2 separate regions of the Homo sapiens genome follow, and region 2 is linked to region 1. Evidence: fine-mapped expression QTL. A gene starts in region 1. The other region holds a variant in brackets. All regions are shown on one strand. Distances are between the middles of the regions.

The links. PIP is the estimated chance that this variant, and not a neighbour inherited with it, causes the effect.
Region 2: its variant is fine-mapped to the expression of ITPR1 in skeletal muscle (GTEx, PIP 0.98).

What each region holds. Positions count from the first base shown.
Region 1 is chr3:4,487,713-4,498,814 of GRCh38, reverse strand. ITPR1 (inositol 1,4,5-trisphosphate receptor type 1) reads right to left here and starts at 5,467. Exons shown (of 62, transcript NM_001378452.1): 1 at 5,210-5,467; 2 at 4,309-4,384. It overlaps ITPR1-DT (ITPR1 divergent transcript), which reads left to right and starts at 5,652. Exons shown (of 2, transcript NR_108075.1): 1 at 5,652-6,031; 2 at 7,447-8,498. RefSeq lists silencers at 3,536-3,830, 5,129-5,398.
Region 2 is chr3:4,809,388-4,820,489 of GRCh38, reverse strand. It overlaps ITPR1 (inositol 1,4,5-trisphosphate receptor type 1), which reads right to left. Exons shown (of 62, transcript NM_001378452.1): 56 at 9,030-9,225; 57 at 7,256-7,348; 58 at 5,928-6,067; 59 at 5,272-5,437; 60 at 2,248-2,408. It overlaps LOC124906209 (a long non-coding RNA gene), which reads left to right. Exons shown (of 5, transcript XR_007095795.1): 5 at 6,059-6,198. Among named protein-coding and RNA genes, the nearest start is that of EGOT, 63 kb to the right of the region's middle. RefSeq lists a silencer at 2,008-2,394 and an enhancer at 5,216-6,415. The variant A/C (reference allele first, on the strand shown) is at 6,444.

The DNA of each region.
Region 1 (11,102 bases):
ACATAGGTTTGTGTTGAAACTCCAGGATTATCATTATGTTCTTACAATTTGCTCTCCAAGTCAACTGTACGTTCACCTATTTGTCAAACTTTCCTTTTCTACTGAAGTGAATTACAACTCCAGGTAAGTCCTGTCATTAACCAGACAGTCCAGAAATCTGGGTTTTACCCCCTATCGAGTTCCCATCTGGTATGTGATCCTGCCAACCTTACCAGAGTCTCTTCAGAAAGGACAATGTAGTTTTGTGATGTTGAAAACCACACTGAGAATTCCGTGAGAGTTTACAAGTCCTCAGATAAACCACTGTTGACCTGCAAAATCTGGTCCCTACAGGTCTGGACCTTGACTCCCTCTCCCTCCTGAACTCCTAGCACTCTCCCCTGGCCTTCTTCTCCTTCCTCCAACATGTCACAAACACTCCTATCTCAGGGCCTCTGTACTTGCTGCTCTGACATTTGGAACACACTTTTTCCCTGACAGCTACAGGGTCAACTCGTTTGCCTCCTTCAGATCTGTGCTGAGATGTCATGTAGTAAAGATCTAATCCCCACCTGAGTACTCCCTTAATACCCCTCATCATGTTTTGTTGCTTTTTAAAATTACTGTAAAATATACATAACATAAAATATACCACTTTGAAATGTTATAACTCAGTGGCACTAAGTACATTCACACTGTTGTGTGACATCACCACCATCCATTTCCAGAACTTTTTCATCTTTCCAAACTGAAACTCTATCCTCAATAAACACTAACTCCCCCTTCCTGTCTTCTATCTCCCCCAGCAATCCCCATTCTACTTTCTGTCTGCAGGGATCTGACTACTCTAGATGCCTCTATAAGAAAAATCATAAAATATGTGTCCTTTTATTTCTGGCTTGTTTCACTTAGCATGTTTTCAAGGTTCATCCACATTGTAGCATGTGTCAGAATTCCCTTTTTAAGGCTGAATAATATTCCATTGTATGTATATTTCACATTTTATCTGTTCATTCATCAGTAGACTTGTGTTGTTTCTACCTTTTGGCTACTGTGATAATGCTTCTACTGACACAGGTGTACAAATATCTGCTCACGTCCCTACTTTCAATTTTTTAAAGTATATACCTTGAAGTGGAATTGCTGGGACATATAGTAATTTTATGTTTAATTTTTTTTAGTAACTGCCATGCTGTTTTCCACAGCAGCTTCACCATTTTACATTCCCACCGGCAATGCACAAGGGATCTAATTTCTCCACTTGTTATTTTCTGTTCCCCCTTTAACCAGTTTTCTTTTTCTCCATAGCTTTTACTACCTCTAATACTATAATACTTACTTGTTTATTTATATTGGCTGCCTCCCACCAACTGAGATGTAAGCCTCTTGGGAACGGGATGGTTTGTTCATTGCTATATCCTGAGCACCTGGAATACATCTTAGTACATAGCAGGTGCTCAAGAAATTTGTTGAATAAAGAATAAAACATTTGAATCGCACACAACTTGAACAGGTCTTAGAGTCTGTTAAATAGATTTACCACACCATGTGCCTTAAACTACATCCAATTTAGAAATCTCAAAGTTGAATGGGTGACGGTTTCAGTGGTGTATCTGGCTTATTCTCATTAGCAATCATCTCAGAACCACAGAAACCAAGAGAATTGTAAGGAATCATAGAAGTTATGTCATTCACATCACCGACTTCAAGCCTTAATTGCATTCATCAATTGAGCTATGCACAAACTTAAAACAGCAAAAATGGAAAAAAAAAAAACTGCATGGACTTCTGGTTAACAGACAGCCTGCAAATGCAATGTGTTTTATTTTTAAAAATCAAACCAATAGTAAACAAGATAGACACTGGCCCTGTGGAGACTCCTTAATTAGATGTAGCCAAAGACAGCTTGACCTAGAAACCTAACTCCAGGCCTACTTTTATTTTGGCTGTTTTTTTCTGTTGTTCATATTTGGTGTTTGTTTTATTTTTGTTTGTTTTCTAAGAGCTGCTCATGAAGAAATCAGACAGTTTCCATGATATCTTTATAAATGAGTTGAAAAGCCATGTGATATTCCCCCCTCTGGAAGTCAGTTGGTTGCACACCATTGGATTAAAGGTTTCTTTTTTATCTTTCTCTCTGCCCACTCTCCTCCCTCCCCGCAATACCAACACCCTGATCTTCCTCACTTAAAAATATTTTGAAGAAAAGACTCTTGATCTTTCTGTGGAGTTCATCTATCTCTTTTTTTCTAAGCAACCATTCCACTTCTCATTCCTAAAGAAAAGATGCCAATTCCCTCCAAAAGACAATCACTTGGTTTAAATAGATACCATTGTCAACCCCAAATGACTTTCATGGGTCTCAAGGCAAGAGCCAGAGTAATTCACTTAGAACATGAAGAACTTTCCCTGCCTGATAAGAATGATATCTTGAAAGGATTTTCTGTTCTGATTTGAATTATTCAAAGAGCAGATTGTACTTTCAGTGTACATATGCATACACACACACACACACACACATGAACTTGAAAGAAAAAATGGAGAACAAAAACGTCTGCACAACTGGCTGCAAAGCAAACTGGAAGGTATATGAAAAGGTATCAACATTTCACATTGCAGTCTAACTGCAGTTTAAACTTTCGAATTATTCAGATGGGGAAACGCCTGATCCTTTTAACCTACTCAGATTCTTTGATGTAAACAATCAAGATGTATTTCAGCTAGGAGGTGAGCCTAATGCTTAACTTACATAATGTTCCTTGTGGTTTTGTTTCTTTTTACTCTCCCCATTCAGGCTTTCCAAAATGAACTCATTACAGTATCTAATACCTCCTCAAATATCTGCACTCTTTTATCCCTATGTTTGTGGCTACATCCTTTCCTTCTTACATCAATGTTATGTATTATTTCATCATTGGTGGGAGGTATGCAAGTTATTTCATCAGTAGCAGTAAGTTTACCATTTTTCCTAGCTTCCCTCTCACCACCAGCATCCCCAAATCAACTGAGGTCCATTTGTGGGATGCAGTACAGCCTCACCGCCTGAGGTTACACCCTGCTCCTACTTTGTACTAGCTACTGGGCAAGTGATTTCACTCTCTGCACCTCAGTTTCTTCACCTGCATCTGACGCACAGGGTTTCTGAGATACATGGCTCTGGACCTGGCTTACAAGTACTTAATGTGTCCATCTTATTATTTTTAGCAACCAGTTAGAAAAGAGTCTGTGGACCAGTTTTTCCTTGCTGTACAGCTAATTCTGAAAAGGGGAACTGGGCCTAATCCTTGGCTCTATGAGCACCCACACAGCCATGTGAGTCAACAGAACTCCAAGAAGAAACTAGAGTTCTCACATCCAAATGCTTCTCACTCCGCCAGTACTCCTGAGGATCTTATCAACAGGAAACAAAAGCACTATACCACTATAATGAAGTGTCTGACTTTTATTTTCTCATTAGAAAAGCCCAAAGATTGTAGCCCAGGGAACAGCTAAATATTTAGAATGTTAAAAAAGTTATTAAGACCCAGCCACCCACCCCCACCTACCTCTGTTACCCTGTTATTTACCATGTTCCTGAACATTTCAGGAGAAAAAACTCCTGATAGCCAAATCTGCAGCAATAGTGATGTACGTGCACCCGTTGAAACCTCCCACTCTTCAAATGCAGTCTGACCATTTTGGGGAAAAAATAGGAACTGTTGTGTTTACAGATAAATGCTGCTCTCAGCTCATATTCCACCACGGGCCCCAAAACAACAGGGACCTGCCAGATTCCTTGACACTCAGGTGGCTTGAGTCAAGGGCTGGATGCTACCACCTTAAGCTTCAATAACTCACTTCCCTTTTTAAAGTTCTAATTCTTTCAACTTGCAGCAACCACTTTCATTTCTTGCAATCCAACCTACTCTGATTAAGCACACGTTCAAAATTAGAAAAGAGTGACTATTTCTTGAAGGAGAGAGGCAGTTAATACTGCTTACACATTTTGGCATATGAAATGCACTGTATCCTTCAGAATTTAAATCATCAGCATGCTTTTCAGACCGGCAATGGGCCGCCGTTTTATTGCTCCATTTAATGGCCTTTTCCCCTCCTCTCTCATAAACTTTCAGGCTCCTTCAATTCTCAGCTACTTCCAAGAAACGGACTGTCCACTGGACCTCTGCTCCCAAAAGCCCTCACCAAAGGCAGAGGCAAATTTTGAAGACTGAGCCACGGAGTTTCTTTTTCTTTCTTACTCCCCACCTCCTTGGCGGTTTAGATAGAACTTAAAATAGGCTTAGGACAAAAACTCATTATTGACTACAGCACTCAGGCTTCCACACTCACCTGACCTGGGTCAGGCACTCTGTTGCCAAAGCAAGCCCAGCGAGGGGTGCAAATCCTGCTCCTCTGTAGTCAGCTCCTAAATATTTAGAAAGAAAGAAGACTGAGTACCAGACCGCGGAAGATGAGCTCTAACAGAAATGCTCCAAATTACAAGTTTCCACCTTCTTTAGCCTCCTTCACTGGGGACAGCCCCCCCGCCCCCAAACTTGGTAGGCAGGTTGGTGGGATCGCTTGGGCGAAGATTCCAGGTAACTACGCTTACTTATTTCCAGGATGTAACTGACAATTGAGACTAGGCACGCACAAACTTCGAACGTGCGGGAGGCTGGAACTAAGGGAAGTGTTTGGCAGATCCCAAAGCACTTGTTTCCCGGCGAGAAGGCCAAGTATCCGAAGCCCGCATCCTCATTGGACATGAGCTTCGTCCACACTTCATCCCTCACCGCTTCTCCGGTTTTCTTCCGTTTTTAAAAACCCTCCCCACGGGGGGCCCCTACACATGCATTATTCTCCCAACCACGGAGCGCAAGAGAGGGATACATTTTTAGAAAGATTATTTCCTTGAGCAGACTCACATATGACACCCCCACAACCTCTCTTCAAAAAAAAAAAAAAAAAAAGAACTATTTCCTGCAGCTGCAGCAACAGTTTCCAACTTGGGGGAATGCCACATCAGACCAGAATGGGGAGCCCCCAAAGCCACGCACTAGAGTAGAGGATATTTGTTTTTTAAGCTTCAAATGAGCTCCCCCCAAAACAACTGCCCGCAGTAAAGGAACCCCCAAATGCATGCCAAGTGCATGCACATCCATCAAGATCTCCCCGAGAGCGGGGCAAAAACTTCTGCGCCCGGGGAGCCAGTGCCAACTCCCCGCGCCCTCTGCCCGGCCCCAGCCGCTACCTTGGTGCCCGGGGAGCCACGCCGGTTTGGGGGAGCAGGGCGAGGAGAGGGGTTAGCAGCCGCTGGGTAATCCCATGTCCGCGAAGAGGGAGCTCGTTCCGTTAGGATGGAAGCGGAACACCCACACCTCCTCTCGGCGTGCGCTTTCTCTCTCTCCACCCCCTGCCTCCTCCTCCACCACCACCTCCTCCTCCTCCTCTCCTCCCACCCCAGCGAGCTTGAGGAAACGCTTCAGCAGCACATCCACATGGTTACTGCACTTTAAAGCGGCTCCGGGTGGCTTATATAGGCCGGGAAGCTCCCTGGGCAATGTAGTCCAAGTAGCGGGTCGTGGCGGCGCCTGAGGCTGCGGGGAGGGACTACAAGTCCCAGAATCCCCTGGGCGCCCGGGCTGGGCCCTAAATAGACGCGTGCGGGGACAGGGGAGGGGCGTCCTGCGAGGCTTTCAGGCTGCTGAGCCTGTTCCTTGGCTGGGGTCGGTAGGGCTTGGAGCCAGCCGTTCAAAGTCACCCCTGGGAAGCGCCCGCAACCCTTGGGGACGCCTCTCCTCCGGCTGCCCCCCTTCCCTGGAATCCAGGTGTCACTGGGGCCGGGGAGGGGCTAGGAGCTCGGATTTCTGCTTTGGGAAGTTTTTACAAGCCCACCCTCCCCCTGCCTTGGTTCCCCGAGCCAAGAATTTCAGAAATCCGGGGCACAAAAACGCCAGTGTTTGCGGTCAAGGATTAAAGGCGCGAGGTGTCTTTATTTAATCTGCTCCGCCCTGCTCGGGTTTGCACGAGAAACCAAGCCTGGGAGCGACGGTCCACGCAAGCGGAGACACAGGCAAGTCGCGTGAGAGCACTTTTCTGAGCCCGAGTTGCTTGTCTTTTATCGCCCGTGAGGAGGTAAAGAAAGGCAGACCTCTCCGGTGCACAAATAAAGGAGCCGTGTTGTGACTTGCCGGCTCTGAGATTGGGAGGCAGAAAATAAATACAAACCGCGACCTCAGTCCTGACCGTACCTCTAGCAGCCCCTCTGCTCCTGGGAGCTGTAAATGCTTAAGTAAATAAACCGCAAACCAGAAAAATAAGGGCTTAGGAAAGAGCCGCTCACACAGAGATGCGCATCCAGGCGGGGCGCTCTCCAAGAGCTCCGAATGGGGCAAGGTGGGTTTCACCCGCTGCCAAGTAATGCCTGGGCTCCCGGGCTACACGCTGCTTAGGGCTCCGGCTTTTGCAAGGAGGGGAAGAGCTAAGCCCGGAGGCAGTCAGCCGACTGCCCTGTCTTGCCTCAAATGACGTATATTCATTCCTCAAACGTTTCCTGAGTGTTTACTAGGTGCCAGGCGCTGGGGCATAGTGGTGAGCCAAACGCATTATAGCATCCCAGACAGGCACTTCCTGACGCCGCCTAAAGATCTGTTATAACAATAGTAATAATAATGATAATAATCAATGGGGAGGCTGATTTTATTGAGCCCAGACCACATGCAGTTTTCATGCGTCATGCTATTGAGTTTTACCAACTGTAGGTATATTTATTATATCTATTTGGCAGGTGCACAATCCAGGGCTCAGAGAAATCAGGTAACTTCCCAAATGACCCCTCGAGTTAAGTGGTACAGCCTGGACTCCCGTTCCAGACTCTACGTGTATGAAACCCTTGTCTTTGGGGAAATCCACCGCCATTGCCTTAAATAGCCTCTCTCCCCATTTAGGAGCAGCCTCTGAGCCCTTGGGCAAGTCATTTTCATCTCTTTGCCCCAGTTTTGCCATCTGAAGGAAATTCTTATTAGAATATGTCTACTTTTTAGCAGGATTCCTTAATATAAAATCGAGTCTCATGAAACTTTAGGAACAAATTAGAGGAGAATCATAGCTAATAGTTATTACTGACATAATAATGCCAAAACGAATCATAATTATTGACACTTATTGGGTGAATGCCATGTGTCAGGCATTGGTCTAAACTCTTTCTGTATAGCACCTAATTAAATCCTATTAAGCCATTTTTTACTTATGAGAAAACTGAGGGGGGGCACAAAGCGATTAAATTACTTCCTCCAAAGTCACACAAATAGCTGAGTCTTGAACCCTGGTCCTAAACTACTAGTCTCCGCTACCTCCCCAATGTAAACATGTGCACTGTATTTGCCTGCTCAGATAAGCATTTAATGTCAGTCCAGGAAGGGGCAAAGCTCTTGAAATAGACAAAGTTTGTGTTCACGATATTCACTCCTGCCCTCCGTTCCCTGTCAGCATTATCCCCTGGTCACTGGACGCTGGGGTCTAGTGCCTAATACGTTAAGCTGCTTCTCCCCATCATCAAGAAACTGCCGCATCTGCCATATAAAGGAGATGTTTCTCATTCGCCCCCACTCATCTCTTCCCCCATGAAAACCTCTTCCATTTTCAAAGGATCTTCGGCTCTACTTTTCAAGCAAATTCAACAAATCAGTGTATGCCTGTGTAACTGGTAAATAGTGAAGGGTAATTATTTCATGTGCTTCTAACTCAGAAACAATGGAATATTAACAGCGGTTTTCTGAAGATCCAGTTGGACAATTTTCATTTTCATCATATAATGGACATTTATCTCCTACCTGCATTATCCACTGTCTTCCCTCGGAGACCACAAATTTCACTGAAGGCAGCATCTATGTCTTATTCATGCTTGTGCTCTCTACCTCCCCTGACCCAGAAGGACTTATTCTTCTTTCTGCACATTTTAGTAGATGTGTTAAAAAAAAAAAAAAAAAGTTTGTTAAGAAGATGTTTTAATGGAAGGTGTGTCAGGCATATGGCAGGATACATGACCATATTTTTGGAGCATGCAACACCTCGTAGCCCATCTCTATCATAGCCTATTTTCTCCGCCTGTATGTATGGATAATCCTATTCAACATTTTTAAGGTCTAGAAGCTGCTAGGTCACTAGAAAGTAATTTTGCTATGATGTGAAGAGGTTCTCTATGATGATGTATGACTGATAAATTATGATGATTAATGTCAGAATATAAGGGTCACTGCCTAACTCATTCTCTGTTATCAGTAGAGGGAAAGGAGCTGCTTTCTCTTCACTATTTTTTTCTAGAAGAATTTTCTATCCCTGTGTTTTCCAGTATAGTGACTACTAGCCATTTAGGCACGTAAGATGTGGCTAGTTCTGAGATGTGAAATAGATGTTAACACATTGAATTTCAAAGACTTAGTACAAAAAAAAGCAAAATATCTTAATTTGTATAGTGATTACATGTTGAAGTGGTAATATTTTGGATATTTGTGTTAAATAAAATAGATTATTAGAATTTATTTTACCTGCTTTTTCCTTTTTTAATATAGCTACTAGGAAATTAAAAATTACATGTATAGCTCATATCATATATTATGCAGCACTGATCTAGAAAACCAAGAATCTGATTCCCAGGATCACAATTCGAGATGATGACCAGCCCATTAAAATGGCCATTTATGACTTTGCCCTTGAAATGTTCATGCAGGGAACTACGAGGGCTTTGCAAGGTCAGTACAGTATCATAGACTGAGCAGAAGTCTGAAGAAAGTCCAAAACTAGCACTTGAGCCTACCCCCAGGGAAGACCTACAAATAGAAGCAGGTTTCATCAGCAGTACACAGCTGAAAACTCTAACTGAATTCATCTGCCTAGAAGCCCACCTCAAATGCTGCCCTGGTTAAGAGAGCAAGATAAGCTGGAGAAAGGAGGGATCGGAGAAAATGGTTTTGACACCCAGCTGTACCATTTATATCCTGTTTTGTTTTGTTTGATAAAGTGATACTAACAATCCTTGCCTTGTCAATCTCACTGGGTCAATGGGTCATAGGACATGAAAGGGCTTTGCAAACTCACCCTCGCTATACTAAAGTAAGAGAATATTATTGACAAGAATGGAGATAATGTTGATGCGTCCTGATACAGTACTCAGTTCCAAACCAAACTTCAGATTATTGGGGCAGCACTATTCCCAATTTTCTCTCAGGCATAAGATTTCAATTGCCTATGGAGTGTAATTGGATTGTGACTCAAAGAATAAATGTTTGAGGGGGATGGATAGCCCATTCTCCATGATGCGCTTATTTCACATTGCATGCCTATATCAAAATATGTACCCCAAAATGTATACACCTACTATGTACCTGTAAAAAATTTAAAAAAAAAGAACAGAATCACCTATGAATGTCACAATGAGCCTTGAGTGCTTTAATTAATAACTCTAAATGACACTTAAATGGCAAGAAAGAATGTCCAACACCCAATCATAGAATTCAATCTATATTTTGGCACTGACACTATATTATCTAATGTGATGGACTACCATTGACCATGGAAAACATCAGCAAAGACAAATAGCTACTGCATAGCTAGTCCAACTAGTCTCTCTTGGTCATTGTGAATGTTTTATGGTGGAGGGATAGAGTCACAGCCCTCGTGGAAACTCACAAAATCCATGGGCACTTGCCCCAGCACAACACAGATACTGCAAATTTCTGCACCAGTTCTTAAGTTTCTTGTACCAGTCCTCTAAAAATCATTCATAGATACTCCCACAAGACTAGATTATCTTTTAGCTGTATTTTTCGGTGATTTTTGTCTCACCATTCAGATAACCTCTTTGAAGATAGGGACTAAGTCCTATAAATGTAGGACCCTTTGCAGCATCTTGTTCTGCTCTGGATACAGAGTAAGCATTCAGCACTTACTGGCTAATTGGAACTTACAAAGATGACCAGAAGAAATGACCTACAGACACTTAATCAACCCTACTTGACATGGAAAAAGTGGAGTTGCTATTCGAACAAGGGCAGGAGAGAGGACGACTTGGTATGGAGCTATAGAAAGTAAGATGTTTTCTGAATCCAGGCTCTAGATATCCTGTGAGAATGAGAGAAGACACAGCAAGAGGGCCTATTTTTGTTGTCCTATCTCTGAAGTGCGGAAGAAACTGCTGGTCAGTCACCTTGTGAGTGGAGGGAACATGGACAAAATGTCAATAATTTAAAATCTGGAAGGCAGCATGATAACTACAAAATAATGCAAAAATTAAGAATTCTTAGTACTCTATGCAATATGGAAGTAGCTGCTATACCATCTCTGATGATTGCTGCCAGTGTTGTCTAGAATCATGTAAGCAAGTAAAGAGAACTATTATTTTCTTATTCATTATTTTCCTGTAAAACATGCAGAGCCAGGGGTCTATTATTAACTACCCCATCTCCTGCCTCCCATCTGCAAGACTGTCATCCTAAATTGCTCTGGTAGACAAGCTAGATCTGGGGACTTGAAGAAATCTTGGAAAAGGCTTTTTTGTCTTATCCTAGTGTTTAAACTGAAATGAAATCTGTGTATCAAAGAAAAAACATAAAGCTCTTCCTTACAGAATAATTCAGCTAATACATGTAGAAGAAATAATAACATTAGCAAATTTGCAGCTTCCAGTATAATAATTTATTTAGATAGGCCAGGCACAGTGCCTCAAGCTTATAATCCTAGCACTTTGAGAGGCCAAGGTGGGCAGATCACTTGAGCCCAGGAATTCAAGACCAGCCTGGGCAACATGGCAAAATTCCATCTCTACAAAAAATATAAAAATTAGCTGGTCGTGGTGGCATGCACTTGTAGTCCCAGCTACTTGGGAGGCAGACGTGGGAGGATCACCTGAGCCCAGGGAGATAGTGGCTGCAGTGAGCTGTGATCATGCCACTGCACTCCAGCCTGGGCAACAGAGCGAGACCCCGTCTCAAAATATAAATAAGTAAAAAATTATTTAGGCAGATTATCAATAGATGCCAAACACTCTGGGGAAAATGTTGATGAGGAATAAGATAGTCATGTGGTCCTAAAAATCACTCCATACATCACACACAAATTATGAAGTGAAAAATGGACCTTTACAGTAA
Region 2 (11,102 bases), 320 kb before region 1:
ACTGCTCACAAGACGCCTTTAAGTCTCCACGATTGAGACAGAAACCCAAAAGTGTGCCAGAGTTTTCTGTGACCGGAAAGTAAGGTGATTAAGAGAAAACTTCAAAACTGGCCCCTGGAAGATGTAAAGATAGGACCCACTCAAACACTTCAGAGACAAGAGAACAAAGTCAGGGGTGAGAAGGAACATAAGTCAAGGGTGAACAGTACAGGCCTCCTCTAGACATTAAGACATCGAATGCAAATGAAGGTCATTATCTGTGCATGTGGACAGGTCTGTGTCAGTATAAATGCTGATCGAGTAGGGTTTAATTTGCCAGTTTCAACAATTGGAGGAAAAGAAGGGAACTGAGGACTTTTCAGTTAATGTGTCCTGACCCTGGAAACCTCACCTGTGGAAATCCACACTGGCACCCATCAGAATCCCTAAGCTGCTTAAAAATAGGAGTCTGCTCCCAGAATCACCAGCACCCTCCCGGTTTCCTATCAACGACATGATTATGGAGTGCGATTTCTACAGTCAGCCAAGCCTGGTTTGAATTCTGGCTCAGCTCCTTCTGAACTGTTCCTAGGAAGTCACTTAACCCCCAGCCTGGCTTTTATCTGTAAAAGGGATAAGCCATCATCAGCATTCTGCAACTTGTGTCTTTTTCTCCCCAGTCTGTGCTGATTTTTTTTTCTCCTTTCTTTCTGCTAATCTATGACCCTAGTGACTTCATCCTCTCTTTCAAAACCTTTTTCAAAAGTTACCTCTGCCGTGAACCTCCATCCATCTCTCCCCATCCCAGAAGTCCCTTCCTCCGGGTTCCCCATGGAGCGTAACTTTAACAACCAAATACAATACTAGAGGTGAGAGGATTTTACAAACCGAAGAGGGCCAAATGTATGTAAAGGATTAGGAATATTTCTCCTCATCATTCGCACAACCCCTCTGAGAGTAATCTTAAGTAAGCATCTGCTTTGTCTCCTCTGTGAGGCTCTTACTACTTAAAGGGTGATTCCCGGGCCAGCAGCTTCGGCATCTCCTGGAAGGTTGTTGGAAATGCAGAATATCTCAAGTCCTGGAAGTGACTGCTGAGTCAAAATGTGAATTTTAACATGCTCCACAGGTGATTCATATGTACAATAAAATTTGAGAAGCATGGAATTCAACTCTAAGGACCTCAAGGGTACAGACGGCACAGAATCTCCAGAAAGCCCTCCAGAACCTAGGAGAGGCCTCTGTGCCTCTGTAATCGGGGTATTCAGCAAACACAACCACGTAATCGCTGCCCTGCTGGCAATAAAACTGAAAGCCTGGCTGCCTCTAGGCCTGTCAATGATGATACTTATCTGAACAGACCTGACTTCCAGTATCTTTACATAAAAAGCCTGAAAATTACATCTAGGTAAAAAGCAGGCTCCTTTAGGGTAAGTCATTATCAGGCCGAGCACTCAAGTCCTTGGTAACTGGAAGGAGAGTTGGCCCCTTCTCCTCAGAGGCAGCCAGCGTGAATCACAGAGACTCCCTCGATTTCACAGTTCATGCTCCTCACGCCACTATCCACCCCTGAACATTTTAATGATGTTCGGAAAGCACAGGTCTGAAAGGACAGCTGGCCCGGGACACCCACAGCGCACGTTTGGTGTCTCAGCAAACTCTGCCCGAGAAGTGTTCTCTAACAGCCTGAAGCAGCTTCCCCGCTTCCTGGGACACAGTATCCACACTTCCCATCAGCGAAAAGATTAATTTGGAACTCAAATTCCTCCATCATATGATCACTTCTTAACGATTAGTAGAGTGTCTCCCAGAAAGGCGAGGCTGAGGGCAAACACAAACCATGCTGGACTGCAGTGAGCAGTCACTTTGCCTCTAAGACACCTCTTAGAGAGTAGGTGTTAATTAAAAAGAAAGGGGAAAAAAGCACTATCAAGAAAAGAGGCAGATTCACATAGCGACAGGAAATCGGGCTATGGAGTTTGATCCAGATTAAAATCCCAGCCCCAGTTCCGTGGTCACGTGCTAATCTCACCGAGGCTCAACATTTCCCCCACTAACACAGGCCAATACCACCTATCTAGTGGTTCTGAGGATCACTCCAGAGAACACACGAAGTTCACAGAGCACAGCGCCCCATCCGTGAGAAGGGCTCAGGCAACATCGGATGTTATTCTTCTGTTGTGCAGCTCCCCGATGGGCTGCTGGGGCCTTGCTCAGAGCTGAGTAGGCCCCAAGTCCACCTTGCTCCCAGGAGGCCTTTCCACTCACCTTGATCATTTCTGCCACGTAACTCTCAGGCCCAGTATATTCGGTGGAGTCCTTTACTTTCACCAGGACGATGAAGCACAGATAGTGCCACATGTTGTGTTCTTCCTTGATGTGCTCTTCAAAGGTGACAGTCTTGTTGTCAAACTTGTCTCTTTCCAAGCCTAAAAATGAGACAAAAAGCCCCCAGCCCCAGCTGAGCAGCCTTGGTAAAGAAAAAAAATCAATAACAGAACTGTCAGTAGAAAGGGGGCTGTGGTTTCACTCCTGTCTTTATAAAGAGTTGGATTCTGTCGGCCTTATAAGTACATTCATGTTTACATTATGGCAGGAAAACACAGGCTGTGAGTCAGACAGACTTGGGTTTGAATCCCACCTCTGCCACTTGGCAGTTGCTGCTTCATCTCCACATGCCTTAGTGGCCTTGTTAGTGAATGGGGAGACCGCCGTCTAGGTTCCAGGAGTGTTTAGGGGTAAAATGAGAATGTGTGTGACACTCTCACATATTGCATGCAACCAGGGAATGTGAAGTCCCTTCGCCCAGGTAAATGCCAAAATGCAGACATGTTAAGGTTTTTTGAGGAGACAGAATAAGTAAGGACAACAAGAACTTTAAACAAATTTTGAACTCTAGCTGGTAGGTTTATAATTTGAAGAGGCCGGGGTGAGCAATTCTAGTCTGTACGTATTCTAGGATTGATCAAATAAATATATCACGGATAATGGGAGCTGGATTCCTCACTGCCTGAGAAAAGAACACAAATAGAGAAAGGGAGAAAGAATAAACCCTGTAATGCTGAAACGGAATTAAAGGTATCAGTATGAATTCATCCTTTTTCATACATATATACACAGATGTGTGCAGATACATGTGCTGTGTACACATACACACATATGCAGATGCATACACCTCTCCTCTAGATCTGCACCCTAATAAGCCCTGAGAGCAGCAGCACACCAACAGGAATGAGCACACTCAGTCCCCAGATCTTGGCTTCTAAATACCTTTCTCCAGTAAAAAGAACCGGGGCTCTTTGGAGAAATGGCTGATTCCAGGGATGGCTCAGGAAATGTACAAGGTGAGCCTAAGCCTGGAATATATTATGATGCCAAAAAAGTAAGAAAGTACATAGAAAACGATGATGACATGACTAAACCCAGGAGTCAGCTGGAAAGGGCTCTCACTGGCCACATCTGAAGCAATTTGAACATCAAAATAAATAGCCCATTGAATAAAATAAAAATCCACAAGTCCATGTAGTTACAAATACAAACACAGAAATATAAACACATATGTGGGGAGAAGAAAAAATTCTTTCTTACAATAAAAAGCCAATAAAGAAATGTAGAAATAATAATAACATAAAAATCATCATTGGGCAACCATCATCATAATAGAGTTAGCCAAGCATCATCAATGAATGCTAAAGCTGAGGGGTGAAAGTTTAAGGAATAGCACGATATTTACAGAGTGTCTCTCCAAAAAAGTAACTTTATGGAGTTACTGGAAAAACCTGGCAATTAGCACCTTAACCAAATGATCAACGTTAGTATCACGGCTGGGCGCAGTGGCTCATGCCTGTAATCCTAACACTTTGGGAAGCTAAAACGGGCAGATTGCCTGAGCTCAGTAGTTCAAGACCAGCCTCTCAGCAACATAGTGAAATCCCATCTCTACTCAAATACAAAAAATCAGCCAGTTGTGGTGAGAGGCACCTGTAATCCTAGCTACTCAGGTGGCTGAAGCACGAGAATTGCTTGAACCCTGGGAGGTGGAGGTTACAGTGAGCCGAGATACTAGTTACAAGATGAACTGGCATTACATGCCTCCTGATACGATGCAATGAGAAGAACACAACAGCATGTCTTTGATATTCCTGTGGAAAATACATACCCTCAATCTTACCATGAGCAAACATCAGACAAACTCAAATCAAGGGACATTCTACAAAATAATTGACCTACATTCTTCAACAGTGTCAGCGGAGGCTCACGAGGCATGGTGACTGAAGCCCCGCAGGAGGTGGGATTTGCAAAGGACATTATTGGAATGAAGGGTGAAATTTGAATAAGGTCTGTAGATGAGATAACAGTATTGGATCTGTTTTAATTTCCCAATTTTGATAATTATACTGTAGATACACAAGAGAATGTTCTTGTTTTTAGGAAATGTGTACTAAAATATTTAGGGATAAGAAAGCATCACTGTCAGCCACTCACATTAGAAAATGTGTGTGTGTGTGTGTGTGTGTGTGTGTGTATAAAGCAAATGAGATAAAATATTAATATTTGGGGATTCTGGGTGAAGAATATATAGAAATTCTTTGGATAGTCATGTCTTTTCTATAACTCTGAAATTATGCCAAAGCAAAAAGCTTAAAAAGGTTTTAAGGGGGCAAAAAGCAAAGAATTTAAGTCTTTAATTGGAAACTGATCTTTTTTTTTAGCATACATACCACTAGGAAATTTATATATTTAGTAGCTATATTATGAATAATCCTGAAATGATTACTCAGCTCCCCAGATTCCTCCATGATTAGTTTACATTTACAAATATTTTCCTGTAGTTATACTGAAAATGATTTGTTTGGTGTCCATGCACCTCTTTTACGTAGCCGTTCACTACTTCTCCTCCCGTGCCTATAGTGTGCCAGGTTCTAGCTAGGAGTGTTACATACGCTGTCTCTCATAATTCTCACAATAATGCAGAGAAGGACATGTTATTGTACCCATTTTACAGATGAAGAAAGAAGGATTAAAGATGTTAAATGACTAAATGATGTTACACAGTTAGTTAAGTGGTAGAAGCTCAGTCAGAACCCAGGTCTGTAAATACTTCCCAGCAGAATAAAGGCCAAGGAGAGCCTCACTCACGGCAGAGGGTAGAAGAGTCAAGACGAAGCAGCAGCCGGTGCCCCCTCCCGCATAACTGGGCAGGCACCCCGCCCATCACACCCTCGCAGTATCCACATGCCTCTGCCACGCTGGGCCTTCACGCCCTTGCTGGAGCTGGCCAGCGACACTCACCACAGATAAAGCACGTGGTCTTCAAGATCTCTTCCTTCTTCTGCTTCTCACTCCTCAGGTCAGCAAAAGTGTCAATGATAACCCCAAAAATCAGGTTAAGAACAATGATGATGACCATGAAGAAGAACAAGAGGTCATAAATAACTCTAGCAGCAAACAGGGGTTCCTGGAAAAGAGAGGTGTCTGGATCAGTCTGGGTCCCTTGCGACCCTTTGGTCTGCGGAGCCTGGGGCACAGCTCAAGTGAGACCTCATCTACTTGGGTAGAAATTAAATTGGGCATTCAACTTTTAAACTGAAAACTGCATCTCTTTTCATGTCCCCTGTCTCAATTGCGACTTCTCCAAGTGTGGTGTGACACAGCCAGGAGGGATATTCACTGTGCGTTCAGGTGGATCAGGCCTAACCCTGATGGAAACAGTCCCTAAGTCTACTGAACAGAGAGCCAAAGCCAACCCTTTCCACGCAGCTGACTTTGCGGCACCACCTCACGTGATAGAGAGGAAAGGAGCCTGATGAGCTAGTTCCGCAGCTACTCAGCCCTACTCCCAGCTCTTCCTCTGCGTCTTCAGTTTACACTCAACACCGCTGCATGGTGCTCCCACCAACCACCCCACCCGCCCCCTTTGCCCTTCCTTCCCCTCGGGATTAATTTACCTCTTTGGACGGCTTCCTGAGTACATCTCCTACTCCACCCCCGCTCCGCAGCCCGTGACTCAGCACAGTGACAATGCACATCAGCAGCGTCTCACATGTGTGCTCTTTATCCTGTTCCGTCTCTTCTGCAGGGACCAGCTCTGTGAACACGGCAAGTAACAACAGAGAGAAAACGTGAGGAGAAAAGAGAGACCGGGATTTTGAAATCCTGTTTCCTGAATGCCATCTCACCAGGCACACGAAAGAATAAAATTAAGGAATCAAGAGCCAAGAATTTTCTTATTTTCTTTCAAAAGCTAAAGTCGTCTGGGGCAACTGTTTTCATCGCTAACCCCCGCTAATTTCTCCAGCTATGGTAGTATTGCTCTCCCTCTGTGGGATCTAAAACATGCCCTGTCCTTTTCAGGTTTTAAACCCCAGACCCAGCCGCAAACAGTCTTTTCATGTCAGATGAGTTGCTTCGCAACTCTGAGTCACAGGCCTCTTGTCTCTCAGATGAGGGTTATGCCACAGGAC[A/C]CAGGTTCCTCACTGGGAATGGTGTGAGGACTATATCCAGGGATATTTCACGGCAGGGCCTCTGGATCAACTGCTTTACATTGGAGGCTGTTCATTCTCACTGGTTTATGCAGTAAGAGCCATGCCTTGCTGTGTGCCTCATTCCTTTCTCCAGCTGCAGAGGGTCTTGCTAAAACACAGATTTCATCACTCATCTTCCAACAACCCCTGACCATCCTCTGGACGAAGTTTAACCTCCTACGCCTGACATAGAAGATCCTTCATGATCTAGCCCTTTGTTTGTATCTGTGGCTTCATTTCTTGCCACTCTCCTTCCTTATAATCATTATCTCCCCAAACTTGCTGTTTTTTTCTTTTTACCTTTAAAGCCTTTAGATGTACTATTCCCTCTCCTTGGAATATCAAGAGTCTCCTTTTATAGTTTGGATATCACTTTCTTGATGATACGCTTAGCCCAGTAGTAGGCCGGGTGCCTAACTTCTGTATTCCATCCTTATTCCCAGCATTGGGCAACTCTCTAGCAATCACCATTTGGCCTGCCCGCACCCTCCACTACATTACTGTCTCTTAGAGTACACCACAGTCCCTGGCAAATGGCGGGCACTCAGTATAAATCGGCTGAATCACATCAGATCTTTTCTTCAGGTGTAACCTTCTTTTCCCTTCATCTCCCTCCTCTTTCTCAGCCTTTCCCCTTTGCTATAGCCTTACTCCTGAGCAGTAAATTTAATCTTCTTCCAACATCACCTGCATCAGCTAAGCCTCTGGAGGAGTCCGATATTAACATGGGGCTTACAGTTAGGAGGTCCTACCTTCTCTGGGTGCAGGAGAGGAGCAGTTCTCCCCACTCTCCACCCTACACACATCGGAGAACAGGAACTCGCTTGCCAAACTCTCGCCGGTTTCTGGGAGAGAGAAGGAAATTTTATGATGAACAATCTGGCAGCATATGGTTAAAATGTTTGAAGTCCCCAATTCACGGCTGATTAAACAATTCTTTACATAAATAACACCCTAGAATCTTGCATATAAATTCAAAGCAGAAATGCAATTTACACTTTCATTTGGTGATCTGGATGGGAAAAAAGCCAAAAATGTCAATTCCTGTAGGCTTACTAGAAATATCGCACTTAAATAGCACCTCTCCAACTTTAAAGACAAACAGCTGAAACTCTTAGACAGATACTACTGAACGTACAGACTCTGGCAAGATTTATACCAAGTCTGCACGAGAAGCATTAGCAGGCATTAATAGAAATCCAAGGTCCAGGCCAGTTTAGTCCACAACTCTAAGATGGCTGGCAGTAAATGTCACTTAGTGTCAACTTGGGAGGCTGGAGATACATGCCAAGAACACAGCATTTGGGAGGGAGAGCACAAAGGCTGGCTGGCTCAGTCAGCCACAACGATTCTAGTCTGTTTCTTAGACTCGGGATGAAAAACCAGTAGTATTTCACTAAGTCGGGCCAACTATTGTAACTGAGAGAAGAGGGCACTTGGGTACCATTCAAGTATTATGGTCATTTTTTTTCACTCTCAGAATTGGAAATCTCTTCTGTTCTTGCTATGTGTAAAAATAACATGAGCTCACTGTAAAACCTGCATATAGTAAAAAAGCCCCAGAGAGAGCTACTGCTAGCAGTCTGGAGGTACAGTCATCCATGTTTTAATATATGTATATGGGCTTTTTAATTTTTAAGAAAACATAAGACCAGGCATAGTGGCCCACACCTGTAATCCCAGCACTTTGGGAAGCTAAAGCTGGGGGATCGCCTGAGCCCAGGAGTTCGAGACCAGCCTGGGCAACATGGCAAGAACCTATCTCTACAAAAAATACAATTAGCCACATGCAGTGGCAGGCGCCTGCAGTTTCAGCTACTGGGGAGGCTGAGGTGGGAGGATTGCTTGAGCTCGGGAGGTTGGAGGTTGCAGTGAGGTGAAATCATACCACTGCACATCAGCCTGGGAGACAGAGTGAGATCCTGTCTCGAAAAAAAAAAAAAAAAAGACATACATGTGATCCTACTATAGTTATCCTTCTGCCATTTCCAACTACATCTTGTGGGTATTTTTCCATGGAGGTTTCTAAAGATGTACCTATGTGCAAGGCACCCCACCTCATGGATGTACCATGATCTGATGAAACACCCCCGAACATTTACACTGCTTCCAACTGTACACTGCAGCGAACGTTCTCCCATATATGTCTGTTTCTACGTGCACAGTCGGCAGCCTTTTTTTCTTTAAGTATTGATCCTAGAAGTAGATTTACTCAGTTAAAGGGATGCATACTCCAACGCTCTCAATATGTATGGTCACTGCTTTACAAAAAAGTTGCACTAGTTTAAAAGATGATGTTAGTGAATAAATAAATGTCAGATCTGGTCACCCACTCTTAGCATTTGATATGCCACATTGCCACATTCATTGTGAGAATGAAGACCTGTATTTGAAATTCACACTCTGCGTGTTAGGGAGATACAATGGGGAGATATCTGCATTACTAAAGTCGTTATTTTCTTTAGTTCAGTTATAATCAGGAAATAATCTTTTAGCATTAAAAAGATCAGAAGATCCCAAACCCACCTGGAACAGCTGTTTCATTGGGCAGCCTATCTACTTCCAAGATAAAGTCATCCTTGAAGAAAAGATAGCCCACTATTGAGAACAGGTAAACGAGGATCAGAGCCAGAACTGCTGTCAGGATGATGGACCGTCCATTGCGAGTGACACTTTTAATGACATTAAGCAAAGTCTCTTCTCTGTACACTAAATCAAAAAGCTTTGAAAACAAACAAAAAGAATTTTAAGAAGCCTTGATGTTAGATGTACATCACTATCCCATAATGCAAACTTGGTTTATAGAGAGTTTGCCCTCTTAGACACTCAAAAGCACTACATATGATCTTAACACTGAACATCTTCCCTGGCTTCACAGTGAAACGGAGATGGTAAAAATGAGGAAAAATAAACACAGAAGAGGAAGCAGGAAACAATAGCAACTTCAAGTAGTATCCAGAGCCATTTAGAGGGACTGGAAATAGAGAAAATACATGCTTGTGCCAATGAGTTTCAGAGACAAAGGGAGAGGAAAGTGATGAGGGTCTTGGCATCCATTCATTTAGAAGGTACTGAATTGAGTTTATGAAGAGCCAGCCACCCTGGTCCCTGCCCTCCTGCAGCCCAGTGTCTGGTGGGAAGGCAGACGTACTACAAGCCAGCGTCAGTGGCAAGAACTCTGGACTTAGATGTAAATTCAAATCTCAGCTCAGCTACTGTCCACCGTATGATCTCGGGCTAGGCACTTTCCTCATCCCCTCTGAGTCTCCATTTCCTCATTTGCAGACTGGAGGATGTAGAGTTGTTATGAAGAATAAGTAAACCACGTACGCACAGTGCTTAGCACACTGGCATCCATATGCTCAGTAAGTACAGTAAATAGTAATTATCATCAATTTCCTGATCAAGAGACTGGGGCAGGGTCACATAGCTGGTGTATCGCAGGGACATTAGTGACGTTAACATTGCGAGGGTAAGACCCCTGCAGGTCACAGTGCCTTCACAATCCAGGCTTGCCCTCTGCTAAGGAACCTGCTCTTTGCAAGAAGTTGGCTTCCTGAGGAATGGAGGATCCTTGTAGGTACATATAGGTATGGGAGGATGATGGCTAGTTTTCCAAGAGCTACAGTCACAGATACTTGACTGGGAGAATGGTGGGGAGTGTGGGGAGAGAGCTCTCTGAAGTTACTCTTAGACCTGAGGCTAGTTTTTAGCATGGCCTCTGGCTGCTGTCTAATCCTGTACAGAAGGTTTGGTCTCCACTGTGGCTTTGGGGTGTGACTGCACCATGAAGTGAGTCAGGGGACAGGGTTGAATCCTGACTGCTTTTAATTTGTTGCAAGATGTCGGCCAAGCCATCTAAGCTCTCTGGATCTGTTTCCTCATCTGTAAAATAAGTGGACTGAGACAGCTGATCTCTGAGTCCCTTCCAATTTAGAATTTTTCATCTGAGGTCATTTTCCGGTCGATTGGCTTTTCTGCCTCCTTGACACCAATCTGTGTTCTGAGACTAGTTCTGTGAAGGGCATTGGGTAGAGTAGGATACTTAAAGGGAAGCAAGGAAGAGGGATTTTAGTCAATACAATATGACAGAAGGCAAAGTGTTGCTGTTAATGTTGGTTAAATGTTTTCCAGCAGCTCAATATAAAGTGGCAAGTAAGCGCAACTTCAGACAACAAACAAATGGCACTTGTTTTCTGTGGTTAAGGACCGCAGAGATTACACAGGCTCCAAATCATAGAAATGACAAGCGATTTTTTCCTTTTCACTCATCTATAGTTTCTGATTTTAAAACAATCAATAAGTATTATTTATATAAAAGAAAAGCTTTCTTCTAATTGGAAAATTATACATGTTCAATGGAGAAAACTTGGAAAACAAAAAAAAGCACAAAGGAAAAAAAGTCACTAATAATTCACCATCTAGAGACATTCGCTCAATAGCTTAATTCCTTCTGGCCTTAAAAAATGCAATTTATAGATATATATTGTTTACAAAAATATTAGACCATAATACTGGCACATAACCAGCCTTTCACCAAGCCATCAGGAACATTTTCCTGTCAAAAATGATCACCTGGTATTTCACTATATGGGAAAA